Linked DNA regions of Homo sapiens: regions 1 and 3 are each reported to be linked to region 2. The links are microRNA targets in miRTarBase. Many come from high-throughput screens and were not tested one by one. Region 2 holds a microRNA gene; each other region holds the end of a gene's coding sequence.
What was found. The annotated mature microRNA hsa-miR-3144-3p reads AUAUACCUGUUCGGUCUCUUUA and lies in region 2 at 2,396-2,417, shown strand. An mRNA with a match to its seed (bases 2 to 7 or 8) in the 3' UTR can be bound and repressed. Matches are read on the target gene's strand: a 7mer-m8 pairs with bases 2 to 8, a 7mer-A1 pairs with bases 2 to 7 and ends in A, and an 8mer does both.

Region 1: the mRNA of TOGARAM2 is a reported target of hsa-miR-3144-3p. The part of its 3' UTR that is shown has no 7-base or 8-base seed match.
Region 3: miRTarBase lists SNX4 as a target of hsa-miR-3144-3p. Seed matches in the 3' UTR shown: 7mer-A1 at 1,479-1,485.

What each region holds. Positions count from the first base shown.
Region 1 is chr2:29,051,574-29,054,834 of GRCh38, reverse strand. TOGARAM2 (TOG array regulator of axonemal microtubules 2) reads right to left here. Exons shown (of 20, transcript NM_199280.4): 20 at 2,605-3,079. The coding sequence ends at 2,742. Among named protein-coding and RNA genes, the nearest start is that of PCARE, 21 kb to the left of the region's middle. RefSeq lists an enhancer at 1,370-1,880.
Region 2 is chr6:120,012,831-120,016,091 of GRCh38, forward strand. MIR3144 (microRNA 3144) reads left to right here and starts at 2,349; the gene lies at 2,349-2,427.
Region 3 is chr3:125,445,209-125,448,469 of GRCh38, reverse strand. SNX4 (sorting nexin 4) reads left to right here. Exons shown (of 14, transcript NM_003794.4): 14 at 644-1,820. The coding sequence ends at 691. It overlaps LOC124906351 (small nucleolar RNA U13), which reads right to left and starts at 2,409; the gene lies at 2,307-2,409.

The DNA.
Region 1 (3,261 bases), not on the chromosome of region 2:
TTTTACCTCCCCTTTACCAGACACTCCCTCCAGGGCAGGCTCATCTAACTGTGTGCTTAGAAGCTCTAGAGCAGAACTTGCACCCACCAGGAAACTGCCTGGAGACACAACAGTCAATTAATAACCCAAAATATGCCCACTATGAAACTCCCTCCCACCCGGAGAGCTTCAGCCACTTTACAACCTAGTTCTGCCCACGAAGATGCCAACTTGACCACCCGTTACATAAGTCATCAAAGCAAGTATGTGGACTCCCCCACCTGCCCGCTTCCTCTCCTGCATGCCATTCGTGCCAGCACCCCCCCCCCCGCCCCTTTAAAAGTGCCCACTTTCTGCTCCAAAAACGACACAGTACCCTTCAAGGCAGCTTCTTCCCCTAAACTAGCTTTGGAATAAAAAGTCAGTTTCTTTATACCAGGCCTCCCTTTTGTTCACTGGAGTCTGCAAGCAGTGAGTGACTGCACCTGCATTTTTGTTACATGGAGAGAGAGATTGAGAGAAAGAGAATCTTCCATCATTAGAGGCTGTATTCCCACCCCCAAGAGCATCTCATGTAAGTGGAGTTCCTGGCCACACACAGAACCAAGCAAAGTATGTGTGGGCTTAGCTCCAGCCCCAGCTCTTAGGAAAATCTTCATGTCCCATGACAGGCCGTCCCATTAGATTCCCACAGGTATTCCCAACAGGCCCAGGGCCAGGTTACCAACATGCTGTCTTCCCTTCATTTTAAAAGTAATGAGGTAAGGAAGTCTTTGGAGATGGAAATTTCTCAAGGTACACCAGAGCCACCCAGTGCCTCCCAGCAGCGTCACACCACAGGTGTGGTTAATAAAACCTGAAATAATGAGGGAAAAGAGAACAGTGCAAAGATGTATTCTGCACTTTTCCACTGTTTTCAGCTGTTTTCAATGCCTCCGCCCCTGAGAGTGGGTGGAGGCCCATGGGATGGGAAGCTTCCTGTGTGAGAACACACATGGAAGGCAGGAAGACAGGACAGTACTGCTAAGCTTCATTTCTGCCGTCAAAATCCTTGCCAGACTCTACGTCCCTGGCCTCCTAGGGATCTAAAAAACCCTGAAATGTTCTGATACATTCTAGGATAAAAGCAGAAAATGCAAGTCTCCTCACCAAACCAAAAACATTTGCTCAGATGACAGGCAAATGCAATTCATTAAATTGTTCAACACTTAAAACATTTACTGTCAGCCTCTTGGGCATTTTTGGATGGCTGCCTGTCTAGCAGGCCTTTAACCTGGTTCAATCAGAATCAACAAAGAGCTAGATGGTCGCAGGGAAGCCCCTGCTGGGGTCACAATCAGGTGAGAAGCAGCTCACTGGGCTAGAATTACCCAAAGTCACTCTTAAGCCGCCTATGACAAGCCCAAGGCCCGGGATGACTCGCAGGCCCAACCTCACCCCAGGGCGTAAGGAGGGGCCGGACTAACTACACCTGCCACAGAGGCAAGATGGGAAAGTGGCTTCCTCAGCCTGGTGGGGTATGGAAATACATAAGTGAGTAGATTCGGGGCTTTCCAGAGCCAGACTCCCCAGGAGAGGCTCAGAACAGGGATGTGGAATGGATGTTAGGCCTGGGGGGCAGATGACAGTGGAAAGAGGTTCCACTGGGGAAGGGCAGGGGAGGGGGGTGTCTGCCAGAAAACTTGCTGGCATGAGGCTGGGCCCTCAGGGCCTCGGTCGTCTGGATCTGCCCCAGCACGTGGCTGCAGGCTGGGCTCCCCTGCAAGAGCTGGGATGCTGCCTCTTCAGCCTTTGCCTTACCAGGCCTGCCTTGCCTGTGCATTTGAGGTCATGGCCTTAGCTCTAACTCTTTCTGGTCACACAGTTGTTAACCTGCCACTGGCCCCAGCCAAGGCAGAGCCACTCCTACCTAAAGTGTCCAGAGCCTGAGCCCCAGACTTCCCTCTCCACTGCCGGGACTTCATTTCACTGGCTGTTCCCCCAGGGGCCAACACCTTCCCTGCTTCCACAAGTCCTGGCCCGTGCTGTGCCCACTCGCCCCTCCAGCCTTGTGATGTGGCCCACAATTGCAGCCTGTGCAGTTTCAGAGACTCGGCAGCATCTGCACACTGGTAGCACTTTACGCTCCACATGCATCTCCATTTAGGGTGTTTCAATGGCAAAGCATTGTCTAGTCCTCTTCAGAACTAGCCAGAACTCCAACTTCTAGAGAAGGCTTTTAGTGATGCAAATCTCAAATTCCCCTTGTCTTTTGATAAGCTGGGCCGATCAGAAGGTTCCCACAGGACCAACAGACACGTGCTGCAGCTTTTGCAGGGCAGAAGCACGATGTCCCTGAACACGTTTGTTACACTCACCTCCAATCAGGCCCATAACAAATGGACTGGATTCGATGACCAACTCAGGCTGCGGGTTTCAGGAGGGCTTGCCCAGCAGCTCACAGATGGGCAACTATCGTCTCGAGCGGGCTGCAGCTTGCAGGGCTGTGCTACCCTTTTTCTTCCTAACTCTTTGTCTCAACATTGTCTGCAACTGGTTTTGCTGCTGTCACATTTCATTTCGTTCATCACAAACCTAGTTACTGGAAAATTCTCTGTGATTAAAAAAGTACAAGATAATAAAACCTTAGAAAAATAAGTAATTCTTTTATTTCTACTTCAAAATATACCATGTACATCTGGAACTCTAAGGGGGAAAGTAACCAGGAGAATAGTCCATCAAAAAAATAAGATAAATAATAATTGCCCATTTCAGATCCATCTTTAATCCAGCTGAAAAGGGTATGAGCTGCCAGTTGTCTTGCTGTCAGGGGCCACCCCTCTGTCAGTGGCCTTGCGGCTGCCTCCCAAGGACTCTGAGTCTAAGAGTTCCTGGAGCGTCTTGAGGACGTGCTTTGGCTGGCTGGCGGCAAAGTCCAGCAGGCGGGAGCCCATGTGCTCCTGGAGGCTCCTGGACAGCCGGCACACCACCCCGCGGATGTTCCCGCTGGGTCCAGGCAGGGTGCCATTCCTGGTGGCGGTGTTCAGGAAGTGCCAGAGGATGGGAAGGACATGCCGCTCTACAGCTTGAGGCTTCCGGGGGTAAACTGAGGCCACCAGCACTGTCAGGCAGAAAAGGAGAGTCACTTGAGCCAGGCACTCTCTCCCTCTCCCACTTCCCTCTCTTGGGACACCAACTTTGTCCCCCAAAGGGCTGGCAGCCCAGCAGGCACAGCAACTAAGGATCATGACACATTTAGCAGCCTATGAAAATGTGTTAGCTTCTTTTAACATTAGTAGAAAA
Region 2 (3,261 bases):
GTTTTATGCAGACATGCAATGTAAAATAATTAAATCACGGACAATGGGGGTATCCATCCCCTCAAGCTTACTATCCTTTGTATTAAGAACAATTCAATTATATCCTTTTAGTTATTTAAAAATGTACAATTATTTCTGACTATAGTCACCCTGTTGTGCTATCAAATAGTAGGTATTATTCTTTCTAACTATTTTTTTACCCATTAACCATCCCCAACACTTGCCCAGCCACCCACTATGCCTCCCAGCCTCTGGCAACCATCCTTCTACTCCCTATGCCCATGAATTCAATTGTTTTGATATTTAATTCCCACACATAAGTGAGAAAATATGATGTTTGTCTTTCTGTGCCTGGCTTATTTCACTTAACACAATGATCTCCGGTTCCATCCATGTTGAAAATAACAGGATCTCATTCTTCTTATGACTGAATAGTACTCGTTGTGTTTATGTACCACATTTTCTTTATCCATTCATCTGTTGAGAGACACTTAGGTTGCTTCCAAATCTTAGCTATTGTAAATACTGCTGCAACAAACATAGGAGTGCAGCTACCTCTTCAATATACTGATTTCCTTTCTTTTGTGTATATACCCAGCAGTGGGATTGCTGGATCATATGGTAGCTCTATTTTTAGTTTCTTGAGGAACCTCCAGACTTTTCTCTGTAGTAGTTATGCAAATTTACATTCCCACTAATAGTGTACAAGGGTTCCCTTTTCTCCACATCCTTGACAAAATTTATTGCCTGTCTTCTGGATATAAGCCATTTTAACTGTGGTGAAATATTTCTCATTGTAGTTTTAATTTGCATTTCTCTGATCAATGATGTTCAGCACCTTTTCATATGCCTGTTTGCCACTTGTATGTGTTTTGAAAAATGTCTATTCAAGGCTTTGCTTATTGATCAGATTATTGGATTTTTTTCTTGTAGAGTTTCTTGAGATCTTTATATATTCCGGTTATTAATCCCTTGTCAGGGGTAGTTTGCAAATATTTTCTTCCATTCTGTGAGTTGACTCACTTTGTTGATTGTATTCTTTGCTGTGCAGAAGCTTTTTAACTTGATGTGATCCCATTTGTCTATTTCTGTTTTGGTTGCCTATGCTTCTGGGACATTGTTCAAGAATTTTTTGCCCATACCAATGTCTTGGAGATTTTTGCCAATGTTTACTGGTAGTTTATACTTTGAAGTTTTAGATTTAAGTCTTTAATCAACTTTGATTTTATTTTTGTACATGGCAAAAGATAGGGGTCTAGTTTTATTCTTCTGCATATGGATATCCAGTTTTCCCAGCACTGTTTATTGAAGAGACTGTCTTTTACCCAGTGTATGTTATTGGCACATTTGTGGTAACTCTCTAGATAAAGAAAAGCTGAGCACATTCATCACCATCAGATCAGTTGTACAAGAAATGATAAAGGGAATTCCATAAGCTGAAAGAAAATTAGCAACATGAAAAAATATGAAAGTATAACAATGACTGGTAAAACTAAGAAGTCAAATTCAAAATACTATAATAATGTAATGGTATATAAACTGCTTTTATTCTTAATATGAATGTTAAAAGACAAAGCTACTAAAAATAATAGCTGGCTATAATAATTTTTAAGGGATACACAATAGAAGAACATATAAATTGTGATGTCAAACATAAGATGTGACGGTAAAAAGTTTTAATGCAATCAAAGTCAAGTTATCAATTTAAATTAGCCTGTTTTAAATATACAATATTTTATGTAAACATCATGCTAACCACAAAACAAAAGCCTATAGTAAATACGCAAAAATAAAAGGTAAGGAATCGAAGCATATCACTAGAGAAAATTACCTAATCCAAAAGGAAGCCATCAAGAAAAAGTAACGAAGGATCTATACAACATTTAGAAAACAATTAAAAAATGACAGTAGTAAATCTATAATTACCTTGAGTGTAAATGGATTAAATTCTCCAATAAAAAGTAGATAAATAGATACAAAAAAGTCCCAACTCTATACTACTTATAAAATTCTCGCCTCACCTTTAATCACACACATAGACTGAAAGTGAAGGAATGAAAAAAGATTTCATGCAAATGGAAACCAAAAGAGCAGAAATATCTATACTAGATAAGGTAGACTACATCAAAAATTGTAAAAGACAAAGAAGGTCACTATATAATAATGAGGTCAACTTATCAAGAGGACATAACAATTCTAAATACAAATGTACTCAACATCACAGCTCCTAAATATATAAAACAAATATTAATATATATGAATGGAGAAAATACAAGGAAACTTCACTATCCAGCTTCCAAAAATGGTTATTCTTCAGAAAGAAAATCTACAGGAAAACATCAGACTGAAACTACACTTTAAGGGGACCAAAGAGATATATAGATATCAGCTACCTATATACCTGTTCGGTCTCTTTAAAGTGTAGTTTAACTGATTTTTTAATGGATATATACATATCAATGGAGACATATATAACTTATGGATATAGAACATTTCATCCAACATTAGCAGAATACATGTTCTTAAGGGCACATGAAACATTCTTTGGGATAGATTGCAGGGTAGGCCACAAAACAGGCCTTAACAAATTTAAAAATATTAAAATTATACTACATATCTTTTTTGACCTCAATGGTATGATACTATAAATAATTTTAAAAATTTCATAAAATTTCCAAATAAATGGAAATTTAAAAGTCGTGACCTTTAACAATGAACGATTCAAAGAGAAAAATAAAAGGGAAATTAAAAAATATCTTGAGACAGTGAACACACAACATGCCAAAACTTATGGGATTCAGCAAAAGGAGTTCTTTTAAGGTAGAAGTTTATATCAATAAATACCTATGTCAGAAAAAGAACATTATTAACAACTTAACATTATTTCTCAAGTTACTAGAAAAATGAGCACACTAAGACCAAAGTCAGTAAAAGAAAGAAAATAATAAAAATCTGAGCAAAAATAAAAAAATAGACTTGAAAACATTAGAAAAGATTGCTGAAACCAAGAGTTGCTATTTTGAAAAAATAAAATCAACAAACCTTTAGCTAGACTAAGAAAAATGAGAAAACTTATGGGCAAGGACTTCATGTCTAAAACACCAAAAGCAATGGCAACAAAAGCCAAAGTTGACAAATGGGATCTATTAAAACTAAAGAGCTTCTGCATAGCAAAAGAAATTGCCGACAGAGCGAACAGGTAACCTACAGAATGGGAGAAAATTTTTGCAATCTACTCATCTGACAAAGGGCTAATATCCA
Region 3 (3,261 bases), not on the chromosome of region 2:
AGTTTTTTGTTTCAAATATTACATTGAAAAAACCGAGCCGGGCACTGTGGCTCACACCTGTGATGCCAGCACTTTGGGAGGCAGAGGCAAGCAGGTCGCTTGAGCCCAGGAATTCCAGACCAGCCTGGGTAACATAGTGAGATTCCATTTCTACAAAAAAAAAAAAAAATACAAAAAATAAGCCAGGTGTGGTGGCGTGCACTTGTGATCCCAGCTACTTGGCAGGCTGAGGTGGGAGGATCCCTTGAGCCCTGGAGGTCAAGGCTGCAATGAGCCATGATTATACTCCAGCCTGGGTAACAGAGTGAGACCCTATCTCCAAAAAAAAAAAAAGACTGAAAACTTGTTTGATTTACAAATAGAAATTACTCGAGTATGTGATATGAAATGAATTAACTCAGTTTTCCAACAAGTTGTAGGAGTTCTTTTTCCATTTTGAAGATAAGTTCGTATTAGAGATTCTGTTTCTCTTTTCAGAAGCATTAGACATTTGCTTATATTAGCCACTTCCCAAAATAGTGTCATATTTTCTCGACTTCTTAATTATTCCAAAAAGCAAAACTTAGTGTACCACTAAGCCAAGTACTTGGGTTTTCAGATTCCTTCCAAACTCACATTTTAAAGTTTTTATTTTTATTTTTAGGGAATTCAAGTTTGGACCAATGCTAAGGAATGCTTTAGCAAGATGTAATCCTGTGAATTGAATTTCTCTTCAATCAAAGTGCCCCAAAACAGAAGCACAAGTAAATAAAAGAAATTTAAGTCACTACCTAGTATACATAAACATATACAATAAGTTAAATAAATTCAGCTTTCTTTAACTTAATTGTGGTCGTGTTAATGTAGCACAAAAAATATATTTTAATGAAGATTAAATATTATAATTTGAGGTTTTGGGGACTGGTGCTGATTCCAAAAAGTTAATTTAATAATATATACCAACAGATTGTTTGTCACGCTTCTGAACCAATGACTGAATGTCAAGATGTTCGTTAATTTCTAGATGTTTGTTTCAAGACCAGCTGTTTCAGATCTATTAATGTAGGGAATTTTTCCCTAAGATTGAATTCCTATATTTACTTGGTAAGATCCACTAATCTGTTATAGGGAGTTGTTTTCTCTTGCCTTATAGTTGAGCTATTTGGTTTGACAAAGCTCAGCAGAAACTTGATGTGAAAAATCTACGATTTTCTTCTACATTCATTGATGCCCCTTGTAATGTTTGCATACACTAGAAAATGCCTTCAATTTGTGTTTTACCAGAATTTTGATACTGGTCAGAAATTTTATACTGCCAACAAAGAAGACTCAACTTCTCAGATCTATAATGGGATACATTGTCATCCTCTAGCAACTCCTATATAGAAAGTTTTAACTGAATATGTTACATATAAGAATTAAATTCTTCTCAAATAATTCTTAACCTCAGTAATGAGCCTAAATTTACTCTGCTTGGCTCTCTACACATGGCATTTCAGGGTATAAGATGTAGCATTTCAATGTGTAAGATATATGTACTAAACATATGTGTTGCTATCTTCATCATTAACATCCTTCTTTTCTATTGCTTGGCTGTAATTTTTGTAAAGATAAATTATATTGTTTTTTTGTATGTGTGTTTGTAGTATATGTTCAGAAGGCAAGCATCTTCATTTTGCTAGCTTTGCAGAATCTTAAAATGTGTACTCGTTATTTCTAATGATGTAAAAAAAAATCCCTAGTCCTGTTTAGCATTTGACTTTTTTATATGTTTTAAATGTTGCTGGATTTTTGTGCTGTTTGCCAAACTTATACAATAAATAAATGAAATATTGTGCTGATTTTCAGATGATTTTTGTTAATTTAACAAAGTGATCCATACATATTAATATCTGATGCTCTGTAAGAAAATGATATCTGTCATACTATGTTTTAAAGTGATTAATGCCACATGTTCTCACTTATCAGTGAGAGCTAAACATTGAGTACACATGAACGCAAAGATGGGAACAATAGACACCAGGGCCTCCTTGAAGGGGCAGATTCGGAGGAAGGCGAGGGTCGAAAAACTAGCTATTGGTTACTATGCTCACTCCCTGGGTGATAAAATCATTTGTACACGAATCCCCAGCAACACACAATTTACCCATGTAGCAAACCTACACAGGTATCCCCTGAACCTAAAACAAAAGTTGAGGAAAGAAAAAAAAATAAAGTTATTAATGGTATAAATTTGTCATCTACCAAAATATTGGTTTTTAAAAATATAAGATGCTGAAATAAGACATGATTTTTAAAATTTTACTTTTTTTTTTTTTTTTTTTTACTGTCAGATGGGTAATGGTTGAAGTTGTAACAAGGTTTGAGGGAGGCACATCTCACACGTGGGTGTGAATACCCAATCATCATGCTTATGAACCACAAAAGGATCATGAGTTTTTTTTTTGTTTTTGTTTGTTTTACTTTAAAAAAAAAAAAAGAGACAGGGTCTGATGTTGCCCAGGCTGGTCTGAACTTCTGAGCTCAAGGAATCCTCCCGCTTCAGCCTCTCAAAGTGCTGGGATTACAGGCGTGAGCCACCCTGACCCGGCCTGTTTTGTTTTGAGACAGGGTCTCTGTCGCCCAGGCTGGAGTATGGTGGCACAATTATGGCTCACTGCAGCCTCAACCTCTGGGGGCTCAAGTGATCCTCCCACCTTAGCCTCCCAAGTAGTTGGGACTACATAGGTACACCACCATGCCTGGCTAATTTTTTTATTTTATTCTTGTAAAGATGAAGTCTCACTGTGTTGCCCAGGCTGGTCTCAAACTCCTGGGCTCAAGCGATCCTACCCCGTTGGCTCCCAAAGTGCTGAGATATAGGCAGGAGCCCCTGTACCCGGCCATGTCAGGGTTTTATAAAAGATAAAATTGGTAGAAGCAAAAGTCATCTGTGTGGATACACATTTTATTCCACTGAATTGTATCATCTCTTGACAGATAAAATACCTTTCCCCTTGGCATTTAAAGATCAAAAGCCTTTTCCCCCAAACTAGCTTTGGACTCGATGTAAAATGTTAGACTTTTTTCTACTAGCTGACTTAATTTGAGAAGGCCATTATTAACTATGTTTCAAAAATGATTTAAGTTCCATGGCTCATGCCTGTAATCCCAGCACTTTGAAAGGCTGAGGTGGTTCGACTGCTTGAGCCCAGTTCAAGACCAGCCTGGGCAACATGGCGAAAACCCATCTCTACAAAAAATACAAAAATTAGTCGAGTGTGGTGGTGCACACCTATGTAA